Homo sapiens: one gene and its partners. The protein of the gene in region 1 interacts with the protein of each later gene in a biochemical or structural test. Each region holds a gene or a part of one and is shown on either strand. Other genes may lie near its edges. The genes, in order: SIPA1L2, ABCA2, LRP4, RSBN1, ARHGEF26, FZD1 and TRIM29.

Region 1 (2,834 bases):
TGAATTACTGCAACAGCACCATGCAGGGATAACTCGCCGATTGGCCTTCCACCTGCCAGGCTGCACATGCTCACCAGCCCAGGGCATGGCCCCTCCCAGAACCTGGTCCTTGATCCAGCCTCATGCCCTCCACTGAAATATGTTGGGAACACCCCACTCTTTCCCCTATATTCATGACATGTTCATTCCCCGTGAAATGTGTATTCTTTACCTCTGTCATCCATTCTTAATTCCAACTTCTATGTGAGCTGAATATAGAACTTGGAATTAACTTCATTAACTTGCATGTTCACATTGGTAACGAGCTTCATAATATTGTTATCATAGGGAAAGGCAAATTGGGGAAATTGACTGGTTCCCAGGACTTCATTTGGGTCTTCCTTGTCTCCATTGGATAAACCAACTTAAATAATATATCTTTTGTTTTCCTACCAACTCGTATATCTATAGAGTTTCTGCATCTCTTTTTAAATCAGTAAAGTCCCAGAATGGGCTTTCCACTAGATCAGCAATATGGACACTTTCCCATTCTGACATAATATAATATATCTGCTTGCTGGGCTCTAAGCACATGAAATAATTTTTTCGAGTGAAAACTTGACCAACAAAAATGCTCGATTGACTCTCTTGAATCTTTCTAATTCTATCCTTATTTGCTAGGGAGCGTTCTCCATCACCACTGACCGGGAAAGTCAATCAGCTGGAATTAATTCTTCGACAACTCCAGACCGACCTTCGGAAGGTAATCAATTGGAAGAGCATAATCAGAACTGTTTCTCTTATAAAATCAGCCCCTTATAACTACTACAGATAAATTGAAAAGACTCAGGAAAGAAAACTGCCTTACACAAAAACCAATGATAAATACCAACAGATGCTCCTGAGGTCTCACTCCATCTGCTGACCTGCAGCTGATGTATTTCATTTTGTGGGATGCAGGGATCTCAATGGATATGAGTAAATGAGGATGAGCCCTTGGTGTGGCAAATCTTCAGTGTGTAGTAGAAGCATGGTGGGCCAGCATTTTTTAGTTCAGTGAGTTATCAGTTGCGCCAACTCTGTATGAGATGACCTCAGAGGAGTCCATTGCTGCCAGAAAGCCTGGTCTCTATGAGTCCTGTCCTCTGTCTTGAATCAGCTTCACAGCCCTTAGAACTTCTGCTGTACACATCAACCTGCACATGGTCTGTCCTCAAAAGAAATTAAATTCTGTATCCCACAAATACTTGGCTGAGCTCTGTTCCATCAGCCCTGTGCTGGAGAGCCAGTTGGCTGTCCAGGGAAACGGAATGGGGTGCGGTAGCAAGCGGGAGGGCATCACAGGAAGGTTTTTGTTGTGATGGTTTGGTTTGGTTTGGCTTATGAAGAAGGGAGAAATTGTAGCTGGTGAGAATGCTGAGGAAAGGATTCAGTTGGGAGGGAAATTATGATGAGGGTGAAGAGCAAGTGGGTGGAGTTCTGATCTAGTCACAAGGAGGGAGCTGGCCTTGGATAGGAGTAGGGACAGCTCATACATAGTTACCAGAGTGGAGCAGAGTATGTGTGCACATGTGTGTGTTCATATATGCACATGTTCATTCACATACACAGGGTCCAGACAGAGATGTTGGCAAATTTCTCTGATTGTTTCTTTTCTTTCTAGTCATGAGCTAAGAGTGGTGGGAGTATAAGAGTTTTGTGGATAGCGGATATGGGTGCACCACAGCGTGTAAACCAACCGGGTTTAGGAGACTTGCCCAAAAAAAGCTAAAGCACGTTTGAATTTGGAGCATAAATTAAAGCGATACCTGTTTTCCTGGTCGTGTGTTTTTTCCCCAGCTTGGGTGACCAGCTGTCCCAGTTTGCCCGGGATGGAGAAGTTTTCTAGGATGTGGAAGTTTCCATATTAGAACCGGCAAAGTCCCATGCAAGCTGGGATGGCTGGTCACCCTATCTCCAGCTGCAAGTGTAGAACCGTTGGAGAGTTGAATTTAGCCAATATTAAAGTTTAGACGGGAAATCAAGACGAGAGAGAGAGAGAGAGACAAGGACCCTGGGGCGTGTACAGGGCATGAATAAACCAAAGAACCTGGAGTCCAGGCTGGTTGAAGAGAAATAATGTCACTGCTGGGGAATGGCTGGGTTGGAGGTGTTGGTGGACAGTGAAAATAAGAGTAAGATTGATAAGATTGATGGAGTCTATCATTACTGGAGGAGTGGATACTGGAGAAATTATTTTTAAAAGACTGGAGGTGGTGGTCAAGAAGTAGGAACTTGAAACTTTTAGGAAGAGGTGCAGTCATTGACAATAGCATGGTATAGGATGTGGTCATGGGAGTGGGGGTTGAGGAGGGTGGGGTTTGAAGATCACTGAGAGAAAGCGATGGAGAGGCTGAACGGCCAGAGTGTCAGATGGAATATCTCAGTGGATTCGAAATCATCAACACAGATGACAGGAGTGGGATGGGGAGAAAAGAGCAAACCAGGTTCTAGAATCTTCCCGTAATGATGGTTGGAACTGGGGATACAGTAGATAATTGCAGCCAGGAGGGGTAGCAGGTCTCATGACCTAATGGCACGTTTTTTAGAGGAGCTGGAATTGTAGGAAGTAGTGGAGATCTGGCCTGAACAATAGAGGATGCACTGTCTGCCTGCCCGACCCCCATAGTGAGCTGCTGGGGACGGTCTCCTCGGGAGGGAGCCAGGATTCACTTAGAGCACGAAGACGAAAGGAATTTCAGGAGAGACTGAGCGTGCACAAGGTCTTCTTGGCAGAATCCAAGTTCATGGATCACAATAAAAGGTTTGCAGGGATGTGGAGAGGTGGGCAGCCGAGTCGCAGCAGAGATGTGCTG
Region 2 (3,500 bases), on another chromosome or scaffold:
ACACTTCCTCCAGGGTCGTGTCCATCAGCCCGAAGCTGCTGAGGTGCAGTGCATCCAGGCTGCGCTCCAGGTGCTGCAGGGGCGGTGGAGGGGGAGGCTGCGGCAGGGACGCCCAGGCAGGAGTGCGCCCACCTCCACCACCTGCAACTGCCCCCCGACCCGTGCGCCCTCACACCTGGAAGAGGCGCTCGAAAGCCCCCTTCTTGGCGGCCTCGCTGGGCAGGATGTAGGAGAGCTCCGTGCTTGTGTCTGAGACCAGCAGGCAGGAGGCCACATGCTTGCGGATGAACTGGGACACCTGGAGCTCGGAGCAGCTGCTCAGCGGGGCCCGACCTGGGGGGCTGGATGCCAGCCCTGGCTCTGTGGGGGACGTGGGAGCAGGAAGGAATTCACTCAGGGGCTGGGAGGAGGGACCCCCAATGGGAACCCAACTGGGTCAAGATATGGGCATTGGAGAGGAAGAACCAGGCCCCAGCAGGTATCCTGGGCCCAGGGGGTGACGCTGAGGACCCAGCCTCTCCAAGATACGGGCGTTGCAGAGGGCGGGCCAGGCCCCAGCAGGCATCCTGGGCCCAGCGGGTGACGGTGAGGGCCCAGCCTCTCCATTGTGGATTCTCAGGTGGGGGTCCCGGGGAGAAGGTGGCCCGAAGCCAGCTCAGGCAGCTTCAACACAGACCTTGGGGGCCCCCCGGCTCGGCGGGCCGCTTGACCAGCGTGAGGCGGTACCCGTCGCCATAGGTGCCCTTGAGGAAGAGCGGGGAGCCGCAGCACTTGAGCTTCCCATGGGAGATGATGGCAATGCGGTCCCCAAGCAGGTCAGCCTCATCCATGTGGTGGGTGGACAGAAGGATGGTGCGGCCTAGGACAAGGCCAGACCCAGGGTCAGGGGGCAGGGGAGGCGCCGCCCGCACCCCTGCCCACACGGCACCCCACTCACCTGGCTTGTACTTCAGGATGAGGTCCCAGATGGCGCGGCGCGCGTAGGGGTCCACGCCCGCCGTGGGCTCGTCCAGGATGATGGCGCGAGAGCCGCCCACGAAGGCGATGGCCACGGACAGCTTGCGCTTCATGCCACCCGACAATGTCTGCACCAGTGAGTGCCGTTTGTTGGAGAGCTCCAGGTCCTCGATCATCCTGGGACAGGGAGGTGGGGCATGGGGCTGCTGCTATGCAGAGCCCCAGGGCCTCCGCCCACCTGCCCCGCCCCCCGCCCAGCCCACCCACTTGTCCATCTCTCTGCGGATCTCCTCCTGAGCCATGCTCTTGAGCCGTGAGTAGAACCAGAGGTGTTCCTCCACCGTGAGCCGGTCAAAGAGCACATTGTGCTGCGGGCACATGCCCAGGTTCTTGCGGATCTCATCCATCTCCGTGCGGATGTCGTGCCCGTAGATGGTGGCGGAACCCGACGTTGGAGGGAACAGGCCGGTCAGGATGGACCTGGGTAGGTGGGCGGGGTCATGACCCCACGCCCTCTGCAGGGGCCCCACCCTGCCCTGACTAGGACTCCTGCTCTGGTCAGCAGATGCCCACCGCCCTGCCCCTCCGACACTCACATGGTGGTGGTCTTGCCCGCCCCGTTGTGGCCCAAGAAGGAGACCACCTGGTTCTCGTAGAGGTTCAGGCTCAGCTTGTTCAGGGCCAGCTTCTTGTCGTCCTTGTAGACCTTGGTGAGTTTGTCCACGCAGACAACCAGAGGCAGGTGGGTGGGCTCCTCCTCCATGCCACGGGTCTCCTCTGCACCAGGGCTGTGGATCAGCAGGGTGGGGGCGGCGCCAAGGCCACCCAGGACTCTGAACCCAGCGCCCACCCCAGCCACCATTCTGATGCCAGCCTCACCAAAGCGCCGGCTCTCCATGGCACAGGCCTGGTCCTCCTCCATGACACTGAGGCGGGGGGTGCGTGCCCACGGCCAGCTCCACTCCCAGGCTTCTGTCCGCCCACTGCCCAGCCAGTAGGACTTCTGCAGTGGGAAGTACCAGGGCCGGGGCAGCCCGTACATGCCTGGGGGTCGGGGAGGGGAGGGGAGGCTGACCTAGGGCCTGGGGTGACCATCCACCACGTGGGCCACGTGCCCACCCAGGGAGCCACCCGTGCTGCATCCAGGAGTGGACACAGACTGCTGGTCCCCAACCCTGGCTGGGGACCCCTGCCTCTCCCCTGCCCTCCAAGGGCTGGCCAGTACCTGGGTGCACAGCCTCAATGTACCACGTGAGGATGCCATAGACCACGGCGTCCACCATCAGCATGGTGACAGCCAGGAGCAAGTTGAAGTCGTCCCCCTCCACCGGGGACTGGCTGAAGGTGTGCCACTGGATGCCCACGCCGGCCACCTCATACAGCGCGAAGTACTTAGAGCCCAGACCAAAGGCCGTCGTGGACATGAGGGACTGAGAAGGCAGTGGTGTCAGCACGTGGGGTGGCCCGGCACCCCAGCCGCCCGCCTGCCCGCGACCCTCACCGCGATGCACTTCTCGAAGGCCGTGATCTTATCATGCGCCACCTCCTCTCGGATCGCCACGTACATGTAGGGCACGTAGCTCAGGAAGTAGATGATGCCACCGCAGGCCGAGGCCAGCTTGGCCTTGGAGTACAGCACAGACACCAGGAAGCTGGGTGGGCAGGGGCCACGCGCACCGTCATCCACCCGCACGCCCGGCCTCCTGGGCAGGCCCGTGCCAGGGTCCAGGGGGCTCTGAGAGGATGTGGGGTGAGCTTGCTGGGCAAGTGCCTGCCCCAGGTCCCTCCTACCATGGCCCGCGCTCACCAGAACATGATGGTGGCCACCGCGTAGACTGCCAGGAAGAGCCAGATGATGACCACGTGGCTGTGCATAAGCACCTGGCCGTACTTCAGGATGGCGGTGAGTGCTGTCACGGAGATGGACAGCTGCACAAAGCCGGTGATGAACCAGGCCACCCAGTGCACCGCGTTGTTCAGGCCCATGGTCTTCATCACCTGCGGGTGGGCCAGGGGCTTGGGGCAGGCCCCGGGGAGGACGCCGCCCCTCCCTGCCAGCCCGCGCCTCCAGGGAGAGTCCCGGCCCGCGCACCTCCTTGAGCCGGTGCTCCTTCTCCGCCACGATGTGCTGGATGGTCATGGCCACGGAGTAGACCCAGGAGATCACCATGCACAGCGGCATCATGTGCTCAATGACAAACAGGAAGCTGCGGGGAGGCCGCGCTCAGGCGCCACTCAGCCCCAGCCCCAGCCCCAGCCCCGGGCGCCCAGCACTCACTCATCGCGTGTGTAGCAGGGGTAGGGGAACATCTGCACGTAGCTGCCTGGCTCCACCACATCGTGCCCCACAAAAGTGTCGATGATGGCGCGCTCCATCATGTCTGTGGGTGGGGGCAGCCATCAGGTGCCGGGCAGGCCCTCTCGTCCTCACACCTGTCCTCCCCCATGAATCCTCCAGCCGGTCTTCCGGGCCTGCTCCTCACCCTGGATCCAGACGAAGCCGTAGAGGAAGTAGAAGCGGCCGCCAGTATTGGGCCCAGGCC
Region 3 (3,500 bases), on another chromosome or scaffold:
GAAACCCCATGTCTACTAAAAATACAAAAATTAGCTGACGTGGTGGCACATGCCTATAGTCTCAGCTACTCAGGAGGCTGAGGCTGAGGCTGAGGTGGGAGAATCGCTTGAACCTGGGAGGCAGAGGTTGCAGCGAGCCAAGACTGTGCCACTGCACTCCAGGCTGAGCGACAGAGCGAGACTCCGTCTCAAAAAAAAAAAAAAAAAAAGAAGATTCCCATCTTACAGATGGGAAACAGGCTCAGAGCAGTTTCCTGTCATACAAATAGTGAGTAACTGAGCCAGGATTCCAGGCTATCCCAGAAGATCTAGGTTGGGAAGGTCTATATTTCATCTTGGATTGACCTCTCCTCTGTTTTCAGACATCTTCTCAGGGAGTCTGAATGCATAAGGAATTACTTCTCAGGTGCTTCTTGAGGGAGAGAGACTTTATTTTTATTTATTTATTTATTTTTTTTTTTTGAGACAGGTTCTCACTCTATTGCCAAGGCTGGAGTGCAGTGGCATGATCATAGCTCACTGTAGCCTCGAACTCATGGGCTCAGGAGAAGAGAGAGACTTTAAAAGGTTTCCAGAAAAATGTGGTTTGTTGCTCCCTGAACAGCCATAAACAAATGTGGTTTGTTACTGTGTGGACCTTCTGATTTGAGATGTAGGGGGAAGGGAAAGCAATATTTTGAGCAGCCCTTCACAGAGCACAGCCATGTTTGAGCCCTGTTGGATTTGTGAAATCTGTTGACAGCTTCCAGGTAGGGCAGGTAGAATTTTGAGGATCTATACAAAGATAGCCTGGCATTGGCTACATTACTAGGTTGAGAGAGAGGACATATCCAGATGAAGATAATGGGATTAGTACAAATAACAAGAAAAACAATAACAGCTGTCTAGTATGAACCTCATACGTATTATTTCATTTAGACCTCCCAGCAACCCTATGAAATAGATACTGTTATTACTCCTGATTTACAAAAGTGGAAGCTAATCCATTTCTTAATTGCTCTGTACTTTAGTTTCTGGATTCTCTCTCCTGTCCTTGGCTCCTCAGAATTAGTTGGTGATAAATTAGGCAAAGATTTGCTGGGTGTGGTGGCTCGTGCCTGTAATCCCAGTGCTTTGGGAGGCCGAGACAGGTGGATCACTTGAGGCCAGGAGTTTGAGACCAGCCTGGTCAATGTGGAGAAACCCTGTCTCTACTCTAAAAATACAAAAATTAGCCGGGTGTGGCGGTACACACCTGTAGTCTCAGCTACCTGGGAGGCTGAGGCAGGAGAATCGCTTGAACCCGGGAGATGGAAGTTGCAGTAAGCTGAGATTGTGCCAGTGCACTGCAGTGTGGGTGACAGAACAAGACTCCACCTCAAAAAAAAAAAGGGGGCAAGGATAAAGGATACCATGTGCCTCAAGCTCTTTCAGAGAAAGGCAATAAAGCAAGACTCTGCAGTTATTCATGCCACCAACTTAACCCATGGTGGTGGTACTGCTGCCTGGTACACAGTAGGGTTTTCAAACATCTCAAGTCCTAAAATAGCAGGTCTTAATCATGGAGTGGTTGGATGTGACAGTTCTGGGGTAAGCCAAATCTTTAATAGTAATAACAAGAGCTATTATTTATTGAGCACTTAGTATGTGCCAGGCAGTAATGCTAAGTCCTTCTTATGAATTAACTAATTTATTTCTCATAACATTCCTGTAAGTTAGGGGATTTTATTATCCCAATTTTCCTGATGAGAAAATTATATATAAAGAGGTTAAATAGCTGCCCAGGGTCAGACAGCTAGGAACTTAGCAGAGTCAGGATTTTTATCCTGGGGAGTTTTGTTCCTCCGTGCTTAACATTATGTTCTTCTGCCTCATAACTTTGGAGGCTAACCATTAAGGACTTCTTTTCTGTATGTAACAGTAGCAAGAGAGGGCTGAACTTGCTTGGACCCGCAATCATGTGCCCGACATGTCCCTTTCGAAACGGGCCACTGAGGAGAAGACTTCACCTGGTAGATTTTCCAAACCAACCAAGTTAAGCTGGCCTCTAGGAATCGGGAATAAAAGGGACCATGGGACAGAAATAAGTAGAAACATGGCGTGTCAGTTTCACAGCCGGATAATACAGCTGGTGAAAGGAACTCTTGTAGGAGAAAGGAGTAAACAAAACCTGGGTAGGACAAAGAGGCTGCCTTGCAAACGAGAAGATTCCTGTTCTCTCCAGCACTGGTTAGGTAGGAAATAACTACTTTTATTTATGATATTCTGAGTCTCTTTTCCTTTGACTCCAGCTTTCACAAGATTCTAGAGGAGTGTTTCATTCATTCATTCATTCATTCAACGAACTTGTATTTATTGCTGCCAGTGGATAAAAGGAGAGAGGCATATGCTAATATGCTTTAGCATATTATAAACGAATGGTGATTCCTCCTTTTTTTTTTTTTTTTTTTTTTTTTTTTTGAGACGGAGTCTCGCTCTGTCGCCCAGGCCGGACTGCGGACTGCAGTGGCGCAATCTCGGCTCACTGCAAGCTCCGCTTCCCGGGTTCACGCCATTCTCCTGCCTCAGCCTCCCGAGTAGCTGGGACTACAGGCGCCCGCTACCGCGCCCGGCTACTTTTTGTATTTTTAGTAGAGACGGGGTTTCACCTTGTTAGCCAGGATGGTCTCGATCTCCTGACCTCATGATCCACCCGCCTCGGCCTCCCAAAGTGCTGGGATTACAGGCGTGAGCCACCGCGCCCGGCCGATTCCTCCTTTTCTCATTGTAATCCTAATAGCTTCCACACTGGGGTAGCCACCAGACTCCAGAACACTCACAGGGTACTCCTTAAGCCTTCTCATCTCTGGTTCAGCTTGAAAAAGCTGGTCTGTAGCTGTGAGTAGTCACGGTCTACCCATGTGCCTCCATGTGACAGATGTGGTCCACCTTCAGCTGTGCATTCTATGGAATGGTGGAGAGCAGTGCCGCTAGACACTTGAGTGTGCATCGGTGTCACCCGGAAAGCTTACTGAAAGTCCAGACTCTGAGATCACACTAAGAGAAGAATACTAGTTTAAGTGTCAGAATGGGGCTGCCATCCTGGCTCTCCTACTTACCTTGTGACCTTGGCCAAAGCGGGTGCCCTTACCTGTTGGATGGGCCCTGCAGTCATTGCTCAGGATTATTGTAATGATTCAATGAGAATGCAAGTGCATATGCAAAAGTAGCTCACAAACTAAAGAGAAATTGCAAAGTATAATTATTTGTTATGGGAAGCCCTGTTCCCTGGACCAACAACACTCGAGTGCTGATTCAAAAGTGCTGGGACGCCAGACTTTCCCCACTTCATTACTTTACCTTCCGGCGAGGGAAATGAATCTTTCTTTACCTTAGCAGTAACCAGAAAGAGGTCACTGTTTGAGACCCATAAACTCACTGCATATTTGCTATTGGAGAACACATAAAAGAGAGGGACCCAGAAGTTGTAAATTCCCCCTTTTGACCTTGGGGTTTTGGAGATTCTCACAACAGTAATACCA
Region 4 (3,500 bases), about 120 Mb from region 1:
TATTTGTCAGTGTGCTTGGGTGCCTCTCTGACTTTATTCAAGGTATTGACCATTCAGTTCTTAGTTTGTAGAAGAAATGGCAACGTTGGAAACAATAACCTATTTTAATTCTTTAATTATATTATAGTTGTACCTCAGTCCATTTTTCCCTCTTTTGTTTTATCTTAGGTCAACAGGACATACTGCTGTGGCACCTACCGAGCAGGTCCTATGCGGCAGATAAGTCTCGTTGGAGCAGTAGATGAAGAAGTTGGTGATTATTTCCCAGAGTTCCTTGATATGTTAGAAGAATCACCATTTCTGAAAGTGAGTGTTAATTAAGATTATTAAAGTTTTGATCTTTACTTAAGTGGGCACTTTATATGTTGAAGAGTATTTAGCTAATATTGCCTATTGAAATTAAATTTATCCAGTGTTTTGCACAGAAATGTTTAGATAGAATAATATTAGTACAAAGTACTTAAATTCAATTATTCTTTTTAATATAAATTACTATGTAAATAGCATTTATTTCTTTATATACAGTTGTAAAAAAGCCTTCTTAGAACTTTTATTTGGGTGGGAGGATTAACTTATAAATCATTGAAACAATTTTTTAATGTGACTAATCCGTCTGATTTCTAGATGACTTTGCCCTGGGGTACACTTTCTAGCCTCCGACTCCAGTGTAGGTCCCAGAGTGATGATGGGCCTATAATGTGGGTAAGGCCAGGAGAACAGATGATCCCTACAGCAGATATGCCAAAGTCACCCTTCAAAAGACGACGGTAAATATTTCTTTTTCTCAAATAAGCAAAACTACTTTTTTTTAGTTGGTTGCTTATAAAAATGAGCACAGTTTGAAAACCATTTGTCTTGGGCTCCCTTAAGTAAATGTTTTAGTTGTCGGTTCCTCTTTTCAGTCCAATCATCACAGTTATCACAGTGAGGCATTTTTCTAAAACACAAATTTAATTTTTACTTATTTTTTAAAAACCTGTGCCCTAACTGCCTGCAGGATAAAAGATCAAACCCCTTAGTGTGGTTTACATTAATAATCAGGTCAACTGTACCTCTTCTAGATGTATCTGTGTTTAGTCTTCTCCGGCCATACCGAATTCACTTTCCAAACCATAGTCTATCATAACTCTTTGCTTTTGCACTATTTTTTTTTTTTTTTTTTTTTTGAGATAGGGTCTCACTCTGTTGCCCAGAGCTAGAGTGCAGTGGTACAATCATAGCTCACTGTATTCTTGAACTTCTGGTCTCAGGAGAGCCTCCCAAGTAACTGTGGCTATAGGTGTGTACCACCATGCCCATCTGATTAAAAAAATTGTTTTGTGTATTTTATTTTTGTAGAGATGGGGTCTCACCATATTGCCCAGGTTGGCTTTGAACTCCTGGCCTCAAATGATCCTCCTGCCTCAGCCTCCCAAAGTGCTGGGGTTACCGTCCCACAGCAAACTTAATACATTTTCAAAACTTAGCTTGAGCTGGGCACAGTGGCATATGCCTTTAGTCCTAGCTACCTGGTAGGCTGAAGTAGGAGGATCAGTTGAGCCCAGGACTCCACGACAAGATCCTGACTCAAACCCAAACCAAAACCAAACAAAACTTAACTTGGACGTCACCTCCTTTGTGAAGTTTTTCTTTCCTTCCTTAGGTAATTAATTGTTCCCTACAATGTTCTGTTCATTAAAGTTTTGTTTACATGTTTTTATTTTCTACTAACATTTGAGGTGTGCTTTGGGAAGACAGGGACTATTTTATTCATCTTTGTCCTCATGACATATACTAGGTAACCAGTATTTGCTACATGAAACCAATAATGTTCTATAGGACCGAGCCTCAGTAATTCATATTGTGCTAACATGTTTTGTGTTTCAGACTTTGAAGACAAATGTAGATTAACTCACTCTCTAGTACTTTGAAAAATCTAATTTAATGAGACTGAAAATGATCTATACCTGCTTAGACTACGAAAATAGCAATTCAAAATAAGTGCCCAGAAGTGAGTTTTAATGGACTAATCTAAACCTTAACTTAAGGCTCATAGGAGAATGATACTTGAGCTAAGTATGGAATAATCTTAGGTACTTGAAATGTATGAAAATACTTTGAAAACATTATGTACGATGCAGGGTGGTGGCATGGTAAAAACCCAGGAGTCATTTGAAAGTTCTGCACATTGCTAGATTATAGCAGTTTTTGTTGCAGGATGATGACGAATCTTGAAATCTTATTAAATTGTTAAATACTATATACATTTTTTGTTCTGTAATCTTTCCTCAAAAAATGACCATCATTTGTTTCCTGATTTTTATAAACTTAAGAAAAAAGTAATAGGAAAGAGTAAAAAGAGGGCAGGTGCAGTGGCTCACACCTGTAATCCCAGAACTTTGGGAGGCTGAGGCAGGCAGATTGCTTGAGTCCAGGAGTTCAAGACCAGCCTGGGCAACATGACAAAACCCTGTCTCTAGTAAAAATACAAAAATTAGTGTGGTGGCACGCTCCTGTAATCCTAGTTACTGAGGTGGTTGAGGCATGAGAATCGCTTGAACTCAGGAGGCCGAGGTCGCAGTGAGCTGAGATGGTGCTTCTGCACTCCAGCCTGGACGACAGAGTAAGACTCATCTCAAAAAGAAAAAAAAAAAGAAGAGTAGAAAGAAGGCAGGCTGGGCATGGTGGCTCACACCTGTAATCCCAGCACTTTGGGAGGCCAAGGCAGGCGGATCACCTGAGGTCAGGAGTTCGAGACCATCCTGGTCAACATGGTGAAACCCCATCTCTACTAAAAATACAAAAATTAGCTGGGCATGGTGGCAGCCGCCTGTTATCCCAGCTACTCGGGAGGCTGAGGCAGGAGAATTGCTTGAACCTGGGAGGCGAAGGTTGCAGTGAGCCGAGATTGTGCCACTCCACTCAAGCCTGGGGGACAAGAGCAAGACTTCATCTCCAAAAAAAAAAAAAAGGTAGCCACCATTTAGGCATATTAACCTTTCAAATTATATATAGCCATAAATAATCTTTTTACAAAATCCATTCTTTGTGTGATGTTTACTTTAAAACTTGGGAATTTTTACTGTATGGTTGTATCAAGATTTATTTAACCAATTCTTGGTTTTTGTTTTTGTTTTTTCTTTGAGACAGGGTCTTACTCTGTCACCTAGGCTGGAGTGCAGTGGCATGATCAGGGCTCACTGTAGCCCATCTCCCAGGCTCAAGTGATCCTCCCACCTCAGCCCCACCAAGTATCTGGGACTACAGGTGCCTGCCACCATGCCTGGCTAGTTGTTTTTTGTTGTTGTTGTTGTTGTTTTTGAGACAGAGTCTTGCTCTGTCACCCAGGCTGGAGTGCGGTGGTGCGATCTCGGCTCACTGCAAGCCCCTCCTCCCGGGTTCACACCATTCTCCTGCTTCAGCCTCCCAAGTAGCTGGGACTACAGCCTCCCGCTATGATGCCCGGCTAATTTTTTTTTTTATTTTTAGTAGAGATGGGGTTTCAACGTGTTAGCCAGGAT
Region 5 (3,500 bases), on another chromosome or scaffold:
TTGATAGCCTCTCTTTTAAAAAGTCTGTGACATTATTAAAGAGGTGACGGAATGCTTGTTTTGCAAACCCCAACACATCTTTCACTGTGGACCATTGCTATTACTTCATTAACACAGTTGCTCAGATCTCAAGGTACTCACGGTCTGAAATATATTTTACAATTAGAAGGTATGCACAGGTCAAAAAGAGCAATCCAAGGGTTAGAAGTCCCCAGTGCCCCACACTGGCTCATTGCCGAGGTGACAGGGTGCAGGCTGTGTGAGCCAGGCACACTTACCCCTCAACTGGGCTTCTGTAGCTTTACAATTTGGATAACTAGTTAGCGGACAGTAGTTGGGACATGTCACATACAGATTTGAGTCCTCCAATAATGTACACTTTGCCAGGTTTTATCCCTTTGTTAAAGCAAATAGAACAGAGAGGGAATATAGCTGCCAGTAAAAATCATTTCCCCCCTCTTAATCTCCCATCCTTCATCTCCATGAAACCGACTATTAAGATAACCTTTCTCTCTCTGTGCACTAGTGGAAAAAGTAAAGTTCTATAGAAACTCACAGTTAAGAGGGACTCTGAATACAGCAAGTTAAGGCTTTTAGTGCAAATAGAATGAATTCCCACTAAGGTCAAAAGGTTTCAATTGGGTACCATGCTGACTTCTTGGTATCTTTTAAGGCCTAATTTTCCCTTCCTTGAGATTACTGTAGTGTGTTCCAGCTAATTTCTATTTGGAAACGAGTTGGAACAGCTGAAAACTAGGTATTATTGAAGGCAAAGCAGCCTCACGTCAGTTTTTTATCAGCTCATTTGGGAAGGTTTTTTTTTTTTTTTTTTTTTTTTTTTAATTAATTAGAAAGTAGGCTGGGCACGGTGGCTCATGCCTATAATCCCAGCACTTGGGGAGGCCGAGGATCTCCTCTCTGGTGGATCACTTGAGGGCAGGAGTTAAGAGACCATCCTGGCCAACATGATGAAACCCTGTCTCTACTAAAAATACAAAAAGTAGCTGGGCGTGGTGGCATACTCTTACAATCCCAGCTACTTGGGAGGCTGAGGCAGGAGAATCACTTGAACCTAGGAAGCAGAGGTTGCAGTGGGCCAAGATCACACCACTATACTCTAGCCTGGGCGACAGAGGTGGGGAAAAAAGTAGGACCCCTGTCCTATATTCAGGTTTTTCTCACATATATGAACCCATCTAAATTCTACGTTGTTAAAGGTAGCTTAGGTTAATTAGTCTATACTTATTTAAGAACAATATGGGGTGAGATGGATTTTTTTTTAAAAATCCTAAAGTAAGGCTTTCTACTTTCCTTCTAATGAGGAAAAAGGTGACAAAAATTCAAGTGTCAATGTCCCCTTCCTGGGAAGAGGTTTAGAAAAACAACAGCTCACCTTCTGAACTCTACCAGTTCCTTTTGAAGTTAACGAAGCATTAAAATCAGATGTAAAAAAAGAAAAAAAAAGGCAGGGAAATATTTACAAAACTGGACATTCTTTACAGATATACAATCTTGCTAATACTGGGAGAACCATACAAGGATGTATAAAGAGAGACAGTCACCTTAGTAATGCAAGGATAGAGAAAACCAGGATATAATATGTGTTTTTTATTGCCAGAACATGGTGAAACTAGGAGGAGCAGAGATGACCTGATCCCTGAAGTGAACTGCTCAGCTATTCTGTGTACCTCAGGAGGTCTGCAAGTGTGTGGTTAGGTAAAAACTGAGCTGTGCAAACTCACTGTATCCAAGCTCTTCTCATGAGAGAGCAGAACAACCTGGCAAGCTTAAAGGCAAGTGTTTTCGTTCTTTTAATTAAATAGGCTGTGACAAAATTAACAATAAAACTAGCCCAGAACCAACCAGCCCGGTAAGTGTCGTGCAAATCTTGCAGTAACAAAAGACCATCTGAGAGACTACACGTTGGTCTCCAGTCCTAGCAAGCGTCCCATTCTCTCCACATTCTTATCAATTGTAGCTTGACATGTTATCTCCTTGGCACATTCCATAGGAAACCAGCCTCTTTCTCCATCTCGTAGTCGTTCCCCCTCATACCAGCCTGTGAAAAAGAACAGAGTCCACACCAAACAACAAGTATTTGGAGTGTGCCAGGCTCCAAGGATATGAAAAAGCTGAGAGGCAGCATCCCTCCCCAGGCTAAGTGCTACGGTGAGAAGAGAAAGTGGGACAGGGAAAGCTTTCGAGGGGGAATGAATGACATGGCAGGGAAAGAACGTGAGCAGAGGCCCTGAAGTGAGAAGGCTGAGAGTATTTGAACCTGGGCTGAGCTGGGAAAGGAGATGCTTTGGGTAAAGGATAGCAGGAAGAATGCTATTTTTGAAAGGACGAATATTTAGAGATAAGAACTGGGTCACTGAGGGACTGGGGAAAAAAGAAAACGTCATGGTTTAGCCTTAGAGATGAGAAGACAGTACATATATGTGATCTCAAACATTAACATGTCAAGATTTGGAATATGGGCAATGATGACAAAATGACACTCCTCGGGTCTATAGCACTCTGCATCCTGGACCACGAGTGTCCCATAAGAACGCTCCCACTCACCATCGCTGACACGTTGATAGATGAGGACGACGTCAGCCACCTGCAGGGAGAGTTCATCTGGCTGCTTAGCAGTAAATGACCTAACGATTTCCACCTGGGTCAGTGCTGAGGCCAAAAGAGGACATACTAAGTTTCCAGTAGCAGAGAAAAAACATGTGCAATCCAATAATGTACACTTACTTATTTTTCTCTGCAATTCAGGGCCAGCATTGAGAGAAACAAGTTGGGCTTCTAATAAAAAGCAGAACATCTTTTCTAGCAACTCCCTTGCTTGGCTATAAGCTTTAGAATTTTAGAAGCTCAGATTTGAGAGGCCTTTTATGATGCATGATTCCCCTCAATAACAGGTTGATCAGGAGTCATTAGTCATGTCACACAATGGAACAGAAAACAGCCACTCTGCATTAGGGAAACTGAGACATGAAAGAGTTGCTGATGTGCCAAGGCCATGCAAAATCTGCAACAGACACAGTTCTCCTGGCTCTCATCAGAGTGTCTCCCCATCCCAACAGCAGCACATGAAAGTTTCCAAAAAAAAGTTTAGAAATAAAATGAGCTCCAACCAAAAGCTGAGAAGTCATGTTAGACCTCCTCAGAAATGCTGACATGTGGCCGGGCACGGTGGCTCACGCCTGTAATCCCAGCACTTTGGGAGGCCGAGGCAGGCGGATCACGAGGTCAGGAGATTGGGACCATCCTGGCTAACACGGTGAAACCCCGTCTCTACTAAAAATACAAAAAATTAGCTGGGCATGGTGGCGGGCGCCTGTAGTCTCAGCTACTTGGGAGGCTGAGGCAGGAGAATGGTATGAACCCAGGAGACGGAGCTTGCAGTGAGCTGAGATAGCACCAGAGCGAGACTCCATCTCAAAACAAACAAACAAAATGCTGACATGTGACTTCTTAATTTGCTTTTTAATACAAAGCTTGATTTC
Region 6 (3,985 bases), on another chromosome or scaffold:
TGGAAGAATTAATAGTCCAATGGCACTTTTCTTATAAAACTGAATTACATAGTCAAACCATCATTTAAAATAATCTTACAAGGAAAACAACATTAATGTGCGTCTGTTGAGACGGATTATGCTGTTTTGGAATTAGGAAGAGAATGTGCAGTTCGCTGTTTGCTTTCAGACTGTTTGTTTGTTTTGTTTATTAAACTGGCGTCTCCAGCTCTGCAGCCCAGCCTGTGGAACCTAAATGGCCCAGGTCCCAGGAGTTCCCATCGGAGCCGTGGGCGTCCCCAGGGTTTAGAAAGGCTCCCCAGGGGCCCAAGCTGCCGGCGAGTGCAGCTCCCGCCGGCGCCACCTCTGCGGTCTGGAGCGGCGAGGACGATCCCAGAGAGGCGCCCCCACTGCCTCGGTCGTCGGGTTCTTAAGTTTTTCTCTCCAAAAATTTAATGGATAGTTTTCTTTTGCTTCTGTTTCTGACTTGATTAAAGAGGCGGAAAAAAAGGAGTTTGACTCCAAGAAGAATGATAGTAGCAGAAGGCGCATCTGGCTTTACTTTCCAAATTCCATCAAAGTTTGTGTTTTGTTTCATTTGACAGCGATCCCGTGAACGTCTCCTCTGGGGAAATGGCGCGACCAAAGCCCGCCAAGCCCAGCCTGCGAACTGGAGGATTTATTAATGTAATATGTTAAACAAAACCTCGACAGACACAAACTCAAAGGAAACCGTGCGCTCCTTAAGTCAAAGGCATCTGTTCTGGAAGCAGAACCCGGTTTGCTGTTGGTAACCAGCGTTAAGAGCAGGATTTTTAAACATGATAATGGATAAAATAAAAGAAAAGCGAAGTCCCGCGGTCCTCTGACTCCTATTCATTATCTCCAGCAGCATATGGGACCATTCTCCTACGTATCCTCGCCTTTTTCTTCTGAAAAAGCAAAAGCAACCAAGCCTGTCCCGCTTCAGAGCAATCCTACTCTTTGTGCCTGAGTAGTGCCACCACCACTACTTCCTCCTCCTCCCGCCTCCTCCTACCCCGCCCTCCTGCCGCTGGCTTTCGCTCTGGCGAGGAGGCGGCCGGCTCCCTTTGCGCCGGGAAGCCGGAGCCGCGATTGGGCGACGGTCCCTGAGCCTCCAGTTCTGCGTCGGTTTCAAGGCTCCTCCCTCCTGGTGAAAGACAGACTACGGGGCGCCTGGAAACCGGTCCGAGGGCGCGCGAGGCAGAGGAGAGGGAGCGAGTTGAGGGATTGACACAAATGGTCAGGCGGCGGCGGCGGAGAAGGAGGCGGAGGCGCAGGGGGGAGCCGAGCCCGCTGGGCTGCGGAGAGTTGCGCTCTCTACGGGGCCGCGGCCACTAGCGCGGCGCCGCCAGCCGGGAGCCAGCGAGCCGAGGGCCAGGAAGGCGGGACACGACCCCGGCGCGCCCTAGCCACCCGGGTTCTCCCCGCCGCCCGCGCTTCATGAATCGCAAGTTTCCGCGGCGGCGGCGGCTGCGGTACGCAGAACAGGAGCCGGGGGAGCGGGCCGAAAGCGGCTTGGGCTCGACGGAGGGCACCCGCGCAGAGGTCTCCCTGGCCGCAGGGGGAGCCGCCGCCGGCCGTGCCCCTGGCAGCCCCAGCGGAGCGGCGCCAAGAGAGGAGCCGAGAAAGTATGGCTGAGGAGGAGGCGCCTAAGAAGTCCCGGGCCGCCGGCGGTGGCGCGAGCTGGGAACTTTGTGCCGGGGCGCTCTCGGCCCGGCTGGCGGAGGAGGGCAGCGGGGACGCCGGTGGCCGCCGCCGCCCGCCAGTTGACCCCCGGCGATTGGCGCGCCAGCTGCTGCTGCTGCTTTGGCTGCTGGAGGCTCCGCTGCTGCTGGGGGTCCGGGCCCAGGCGGCGGGCCAGGGGCCAGGCCAGGGGCCCGGGCCGGGGCAGCAACCGCCGCCGCCGCCTCAGCAGCAACAGAGCGGGCAGCAGTACAACGGCGAGCGGGGCATCTCCGTCCCGGACCACGGCTATTGCCAGCCCATCTCCATCCCGCTGTGCACGGACATCGCGTACAACCAGACCATCATGCCCAACCTGCTGGGCCACACGAACCAGGAGGACGCGGGCCTGGAGGTGCACCAGTTCTACCCTCTAGTGAAAGTGCAGTGTTCCGCTGAGCTCAAGTTCTTCCTGTGCTCCATGTACGCGCCCGTGTGCACCGTGCTAGAGCAGGCGCTGCCGCCCTGCCGCTCCCTGTGCGAGCGCGCGCGCCAGGGCTGCGAGGCGCTCATGAACAAGTTCGGCTTCCAGTGGCCAGACACGCTCAAGTGTGAGAAGTTCCCGGTGCACGGCGCCGGCGAGCTGTGCGTGGGCCAGAACACGTCCGACAAGGGCACCCCGACGCCCTCGCTGCTTCCAGAGTTCTGGACCAGCAACCCTCAGCACGGCGGCGGAGGGCACCGTGGCGGCTTCCCGGGGGGCGCCGGCGCGTCGGAGCGAGGCAAGTTCTCCTGCCCGCGCGCCCTCAAGGTGCCCTCCTACCTCAACTACCACTTCCTGGGGGAGAAGGACTGCGGCGCACCTTGTGAGCCGACCAAGGTGTATGGGCTCATGTACTTCGGGCCCGAGGAGCTGCGCTTCTCGCGCACCTGGATTGGCATTTGGTCAGTGCTGTGCTGCGCCTCCACGCTCTTCACGGTGCTTACGTACCTGGTGGACATGCGGCGCTTCAGCTACCCGGAGCGGCCCATCATCTTCTTGTCCGGCTGTTACACGGCCGTGGCCGTGGCCTACATCGCCGGCTTCCTCCTGGAAGACCGAGTGGTGTGTAATGACAAGTTCGCCGAGGACGGGGCACGCACTGTGGCGCAGGGCACCAAGAAGGAGGGCTGCACCATCCTCTTCATGATGCTCTACTTCTTCAGCATGGCCAGCTCCATCTGGTGGGTGATCCTGTCGCTCACCTGGTTCCTGGCGGCTGGCATGAAGTGGGGCCACGAGGCCATCGAAGCCAACTCACAGTATTTTCACCTGGCCGCCTGGGCTGTGCCGGCCATCAAGACCATCACCATCCTGGCGCTGGGCCAGGTGGACGGCGATGTGCTGAGCGGAGTGTGCTTCGTGGGGCTTAACAACGTGGACGCGCTGCGTGGCTTCGTGCTGGCGCCCCTCTTCGTGTACCTGTTTATCGGCACGTCCTTTCTGCTGGCCGGCTTTGTGTCGCTCTTCCGCATCCGCACCATCATGAAGCACGATGGCACCAAGACCGAGAAGCTGGAGAAGCTCATGGTGCGCATTGGCGTCTTCAGCGTGCTGTACACTGTGCCAGCCACCATCGTCATCGCCTGCTACTTCTACGAGCAGGCCTTCCGGGACCAGTGGGAACGCAGCTGGGTGGCCCAGAGCTGCAAGAGCTACGCTATCCCCTGCCCTCACCTCCAGGCGGGCGGAGGCGCCCCGCCGCACCCGCCCATGAGCCCGGACTTCACGGTCTTCATGATTAAGTACCTTATGACGCTGATCGTGGGCATCACGTCGGGCTTCTGGATCTGGTCCGGCAAGACCCTCAACTCCTGGAGGAAGTTCTACACGAGGCTCACCAACAGCAAACAAGGGGAGACTACAGTCTGAGACCCGGGGCTCAGCCCATGCCCAGGCCTCGGCCGGGGCGCAGCGATCCCCCAAAGCCAGCGCCGTGGAGTTCGTGCCAATCCTGACATCTCGAGGTTTCCTCACTAGACAACTCTCTTTCGCAGGCTCCTTTGAACAACTCAGCTCCTGCAAAAGCTTCCGTCCCTGAGGCAAAAGGACACGAGGGCCCGACTGCCAGAGGGAGGATGGACAGACCTCTTGCCCTCACACTCTGGTACCAGGACTGTTCGCTTTTATGATTGTAAATAGCCTGTGTAAGATTTTTGTAAGTATATTTGTATTTAAATGACGACCGATCACGCGTTTTTCTTTTTCAAAAGTTTTTAATTATTTAGGGCGGTTTAACCATTTGAGGCTTTTCCTTCTTGCCCTTTTCGGAGTATTGCA
Region 7 (3,500 bases), on another chromosome or scaffold:
CCGATACCCAGCTGAAAACAATGAGCTCCCCATGTGTATTCTAGCCCTCTGTTACCTCTGTCCTTCCCCACCTGACCCTCAGATGACACCACACCCCCATTTCCGGCCCTGCCAGTCCTTCCTGTAAGCCTTTGTGCCTGTGTTCCCTGATGCCCTCTGCCCTTCGCAGTCATGCTCCCTCTACTGAGCACAGGTTCCTGGAAATTCACCCCTCCAGGGAAGGAGTCACAGCCACTGTCAATCCCACTGACCTCAAAGCTCCCAGACTCAGGACCCAGTCCCTTTAGGGGCCTTGTTTCTTTCATCTCCTTGGTGATTGCTTCCTGTTCTCCCCCCAACTCCACCCTGAGCCTGGGAGCTCCCAGAGGGCAGATTTCCTGTCCCTCCTGTCCTCGGCACAGGCTACCCACAGTGCTTGGGCAGGGATGCCGGGGGAACCTGTTTCTTCCATCACAGACATCATAGACTGACTCACAGTGCAGAGCTGGGAAGTCTCCCAGCATGTGAGCACAACCTCCCCTCTCTTCAGATACAGGTACTGAGGCCTGCCCAAGATGCCCCAGGCCCTAGGCCCTCGGGGTGGCATCATAGTGGGTGCTGCTGTTCCCTCCACCCCCTCCCACAACCTGCAGGAGGCTCACACTGGGCCCTCAGTCTCCTACAGAGCAGGAGAGACCCGCAGGAGCCTGTCAGGGCACTCGATGGCACCCCAGGGCCTGGTCCATGGATGGAAGGGAGAGACAGGAGGGACAGGGCCAGGGCGAGGCCAGGTAGGGGTTCTGAGGAGAGGGGTGCTGGGGCCGGCACTCCCAGAACTTGCCCAAAGGCACAGCACCCCAGGCAGGGAGGAGGCAGGCTGGCCGGCTGGGGCCTGGCCCACACCAGGAATGTCAGAGGAGGGAAAGCCCAACAACCAAGAAGCCCAGGGGTTGTTTTCAAACTGGGTGGGGCGGCACAGGTGCTTTTCTGTTGAGCTCATCTCTCCAAATCCCCCAAGCCTCTCCCATTGTGTGTGTGAGTGTGTGTGTGTGTGTGTGTGTGTGTGTGTGTGAAAGACGTGTGTGAATTACTGATTAGCTCCCGGAGGCTTCCCCCTCCCCAGCCCCTGTGCCTTACCCAGGCCTCCCTCCTCCCCCAGCCTCCCTCTCCCACATGCACAGGCACACACCCTCATGGTCCGAGGGCTGGCACACCCACCCTTATGTAACGGGTATTGCTGTGGTTTGTTGCTGGCGCCCAAGAATGTGAGAGGCCACCACAGGGCAAGGACAGGCAGGCACTGGTCTGTGCTAGGCCGGCACCTTGCAGGCTGGGACTGTCCAGGGCCTGAGAGGGAGGGCCAAGGGGGCCAGGGTGCAGAGCCAGGAAACTCAGAAGAGGAGGGACCACTCTCCCTGCCTAGGGGAGCAGAATGGTCCTGGGGTCGGCAGCCATCTCACAGGGCTCAGCCCCTACAAAACCTGAGCCAAAGCAAAACACAGCACCGGCCTGGCAGAAGGGAGCCCAGGAGACCTCCGGAAGGAAAGAGAAGCAGAGGTGTGGGCTGGAAGTGAGAAGGCAAGGAGGGCAAAGAGGTGCTGCCTGTGTGGCCCGGGAGGAATGCCTCTGAGGAGCTGGCACCAGGTAACTTCTCATTCGAACCAGGACACTTCTGAGAGCTAACACAGACCTGTTCATCATCACATCAGGACAACACGTAGATGCCAGGACTTTCCCAGGCAAACTGGACATGCCATCACCCCCACTCAGAAGGAACCTGGCTGAGAGTCACTGCACGGACTTTGGGGGCCCCTGGGCAGCAGGAGAGACACTAGGTCTGGGGTGAGGGGCTCCCTCTTACCTTTGGGTGTCAGGTACATGGAGTATCTCTTCATGGTGTCCGGTGCACTCCACTCACCCCCGAAGCTGTTCGTGTAGTTGTTCACATAGCGATGGTCACCACCTAGGAAGCAGAGGGTCGGGTCAGCAGAGGAGCCAGGTGGGAAGGAGGAGCCAGCCACTGGGGACTTTTGGGGCTCAGATGAGTCACCCCATAGCCCTTCCCCTATCTCCCAGGCAGATCCAAGTTTCCCCAACCTCTCAGAGAATATGACGCCCTGCCCAGCATTCACTCGGTTCCTGAGCTCTTGGTGGAGAAGGTGTCTGCAAAGAGCCATCCACCCTCTTGAACTAAGCCCTTGTAAATACGATTGTGTGCACAACACTTCCTAGCACTTCACCTTTACAAGGTGCTATTAATGCCCATTTCTTATTTGATCCATACATCAATTGTGGTTGTATCCCCCTGAGACAGATAAGGAAATTGAGACTCAGGAAGTAAGAGAAGCAGCTTGCCCAATGTCACATGCCGATAAGGGCAGAGTTGGGGATTGAGCTCTGGCTCGCTACTTCCGGGTTCAGTCCCAGCCACTGCTGGCAGCCTAAGGTGAGGGGATGAGGTCCCAGTGTTGGCCTCCATGGCCCAGGGATCCAGGCAGTGGAGTGAGCTGCTATGGCAGGGGCCACTCAACTGCAGACCCCCTAACTCAAACAGATCTGCTGCTCGACACTTGACTTCCCTCAGCCACCTCCACCCCATTCCTTTCTCTTTCGACTTCCCCGTCTTCTACTTTCCCTGTCCTTCCCTCTCTCTCTCCTGAGCAAGAGGAGAAATGTGCCTGAGACCCTCATTCTTCATCTTCATCACCTGCGCCTATCAGTGTCCTGGTGCACAGCAGATACTCAAAGAATAAACAAATGCCCTCCTAGGTGTTAGCCCAGCCCTGTGCCCCACAGAGTCCAGGATGAAGTGGCCTGGTGTCTCTTAGCGCAGGGGCCTTTGAGGGTGTGGACGAGTCCCTGGTCTGGTGGGCAGGCTAGCATCGGGGAGGAGTGGATGGTCACTCCACTGTCTGACTCACCGGCCACCACCTCCTAGAGCAGACACACTCCCAGCAGCCACACGAAAAAACAACACAGAGGCAGAGGAGCCGCCCCCACGGCCCCAGGCACAGGTGTGGGCTACTGAATCAGCAGTGCCCATCCCTGCTCCTGCTTGCCACCTCGCCACACACCTCGTACAGGACGCAGGGCCACACCTGTACAGAGGCCGTGGCCAGCATTGTGACCTAGAAATGGGACAGTGAGCGGCCAGGAGCCTGAACAGTTTCTGCAAGGCTCACCCCACCCCAGTCTAGGCCATCCCCCAGGCCTGGCCGGACCTCACCGGAGGGGCTGCCCTGCCGAGTTTGTACCCCAGGGACGATGATTATCACACTCCTCAACCCCACTTCTGCAGCCACCGCCAGCCGCAGCTTCTCAGATGAGAGGGCATGGGAGACTGAACAGCAGAGTGTTCAACCCCGCCGTACCCCCTACCGAGCAGTGCGCCCTTTGAAAGGATGCTTCTCTGAGCCTCAGCCTTCTCGCCTGTAAAATGCAGTACACCCCACAGGGAAAATAAGGTAATGTGCGTGAGAAGCTCAGTGAAATGCCCGGCATCGAGCGAGCACTCAATCATT

Evidence for each region.
Region 2: the proteins of SIPA1L2 (region 1) and ABCA2 interact in a test that uses a peptide from one of them, tested with the Homo sapiens proteins (one large-scale study listed by IntAct).
Region 3: the proteins of SIPA1L2 (region 1) and LRP4 interact in a test that uses a peptide from one of them, tested with the Homo sapiens proteins (one large-scale study listed by IntAct).
Region 4: the proteins of SIPA1L2 (region 1) and RSBN1 interact in a test that uses a peptide from one of them, tested with the Homo sapiens proteins (one large-scale study listed by IntAct).
Region 5: the proteins of SIPA1L2 (region 1) and ARHGEF26 interact in a test that uses a peptide from one of them, tested with the Homo sapiens proteins (one large-scale study listed by IntAct).
Region 6: the proteins of SIPA1L2 (region 1) and FZD1 interact in a test that uses a peptide from one of them, tested with the Homo sapiens proteins (one large-scale study listed by IntAct).
Region 7: the proteins of SIPA1L2 (region 1) and TRIM29 interact in a test that uses a peptide from one of them, tested with the Homo sapiens proteins (one large-scale study listed by IntAct).

The regions. Positions count from the first base shown.
Region 1 is NC_000001.11:232,400,300-232,403,133, reverse strand, and holds part of SIPA1L2 (signal-induced proliferation-associated 1-like protein 2), read left to right. Parts: intron 1-660; coding exon 661-742; intron 743-2,834.
Region 2 is NC_000009.12:137,014,738-137,018,237, forward strand, and holds part of ABCA2 (ATP-binding cassette sub-family A member 2), read right to left. Parts: coding exon 3,441-3,500; intron 3,339-3,440; coding exon 3,236-3,338; intron 3,165-3,235; coding exon 3,050-3,164; intron 2,956-3,049; coding exon 2,765-2,955; intron 2,610-2,764; coding exon 2,459-2,609; intron 2,388-2,458; coding exon 2,183-2,387; intron 2,002-2,182; coding exon 1,837-2,001; intron 1,735-1,836; coding exon 1,554-1,734; intron 1,438-1,553; coding exon 1,225-1,437; intron 1,135-1,224; coding exon 938-1,134; intron 860-937; coding exon 677-859; intron 361-676; coding exon 176-360; intron 74-175; coding exon 1-73. UniProt on the Homo sapiens protein: Probable lipid transporter that modulates cholesterol sequestration in the late endosome/lysosome by regulating the intracellular sphingolipid metabolism, in turn participates in cholesterol homeostasis.
Region 3 is NC_000011.10:46,908,551-46,912,050, reverse strand, and holds part of LRP4 (low-density lipoprotein receptor-related protein 4 precursor), read left to right. Parts: intron 1-3,500. UniProt on the Homo sapiens protein: Mediates SOST-dependent inhibition of bone formation. Functions as a specific facilitator of SOST-mediated inhibition of Wnt signaling.
Region 4 is NC_000001.11:113,774,477-113,777,976, reverse strand, and holds part of RSBN1 (lysine-specific demethylase 9), read left to right. Parts: exon of another isoform or gene 1-157; intron 158-168; coding exon 169-306; intron 307-624; coding exon 625-767; intron 768-3,500. UniProt on the Homo sapiens protein: Histone demethylase that specifically demethylates dimethylated 'Lys-20' of histone H4 (H4K20me2), thereby modulating chromosome architecture.
Region 5 is NC_000003.12:154,253,890-154,257,389, reverse strand, and holds part of ARHGEF26 (rho guanine nucleotide exchange factor 26), read right to left. Parts: exon of another isoform or gene 3,417-3,500; intron 2,671-3,416; coding exon 2,566-2,670; intron 2,060-2,565; coding exon 1,917-2,059; 3' UTR 1-1,916. UniProt on the Homo sapiens protein: Activates RhoG GTPase by promoting the exchange of GDP by GTP. Required for the formation of membrane ruffles during macropinocytosis. Required for the formation of cup-like structures during trans-endothelial migration of leukocytes.
Region 6 is NC_000007.14:91,263,248-91,267,232, forward strand, and holds the start of FZD1 (frizzled-1), read left to right. Parts: upstream 1-1,185; 5' UTR 1,186-1,633; coding exon 1,634-3,577; 3' UTR 3,578-3,985. UniProt on the Homo sapiens protein: Receptor for Wnt proteins. Activated by WNT3A, WNT3, WNT1 and to a lesser extent WNT2, but apparently not by WNT4, WNT5A, WNT5B, WNT6, WNT7A or WNT7B. Contradictory results showing activation by WNT7B have been described for mouse.
Region 7 is NC_000011.10:120,121,114-120,124,613, forward strand, and holds part of TRIM29 (tripartite motif-containing protein 29), read right to left. Parts: intron 1,943-3,500; coding exon 1,841-1,942; intron 1-1,840.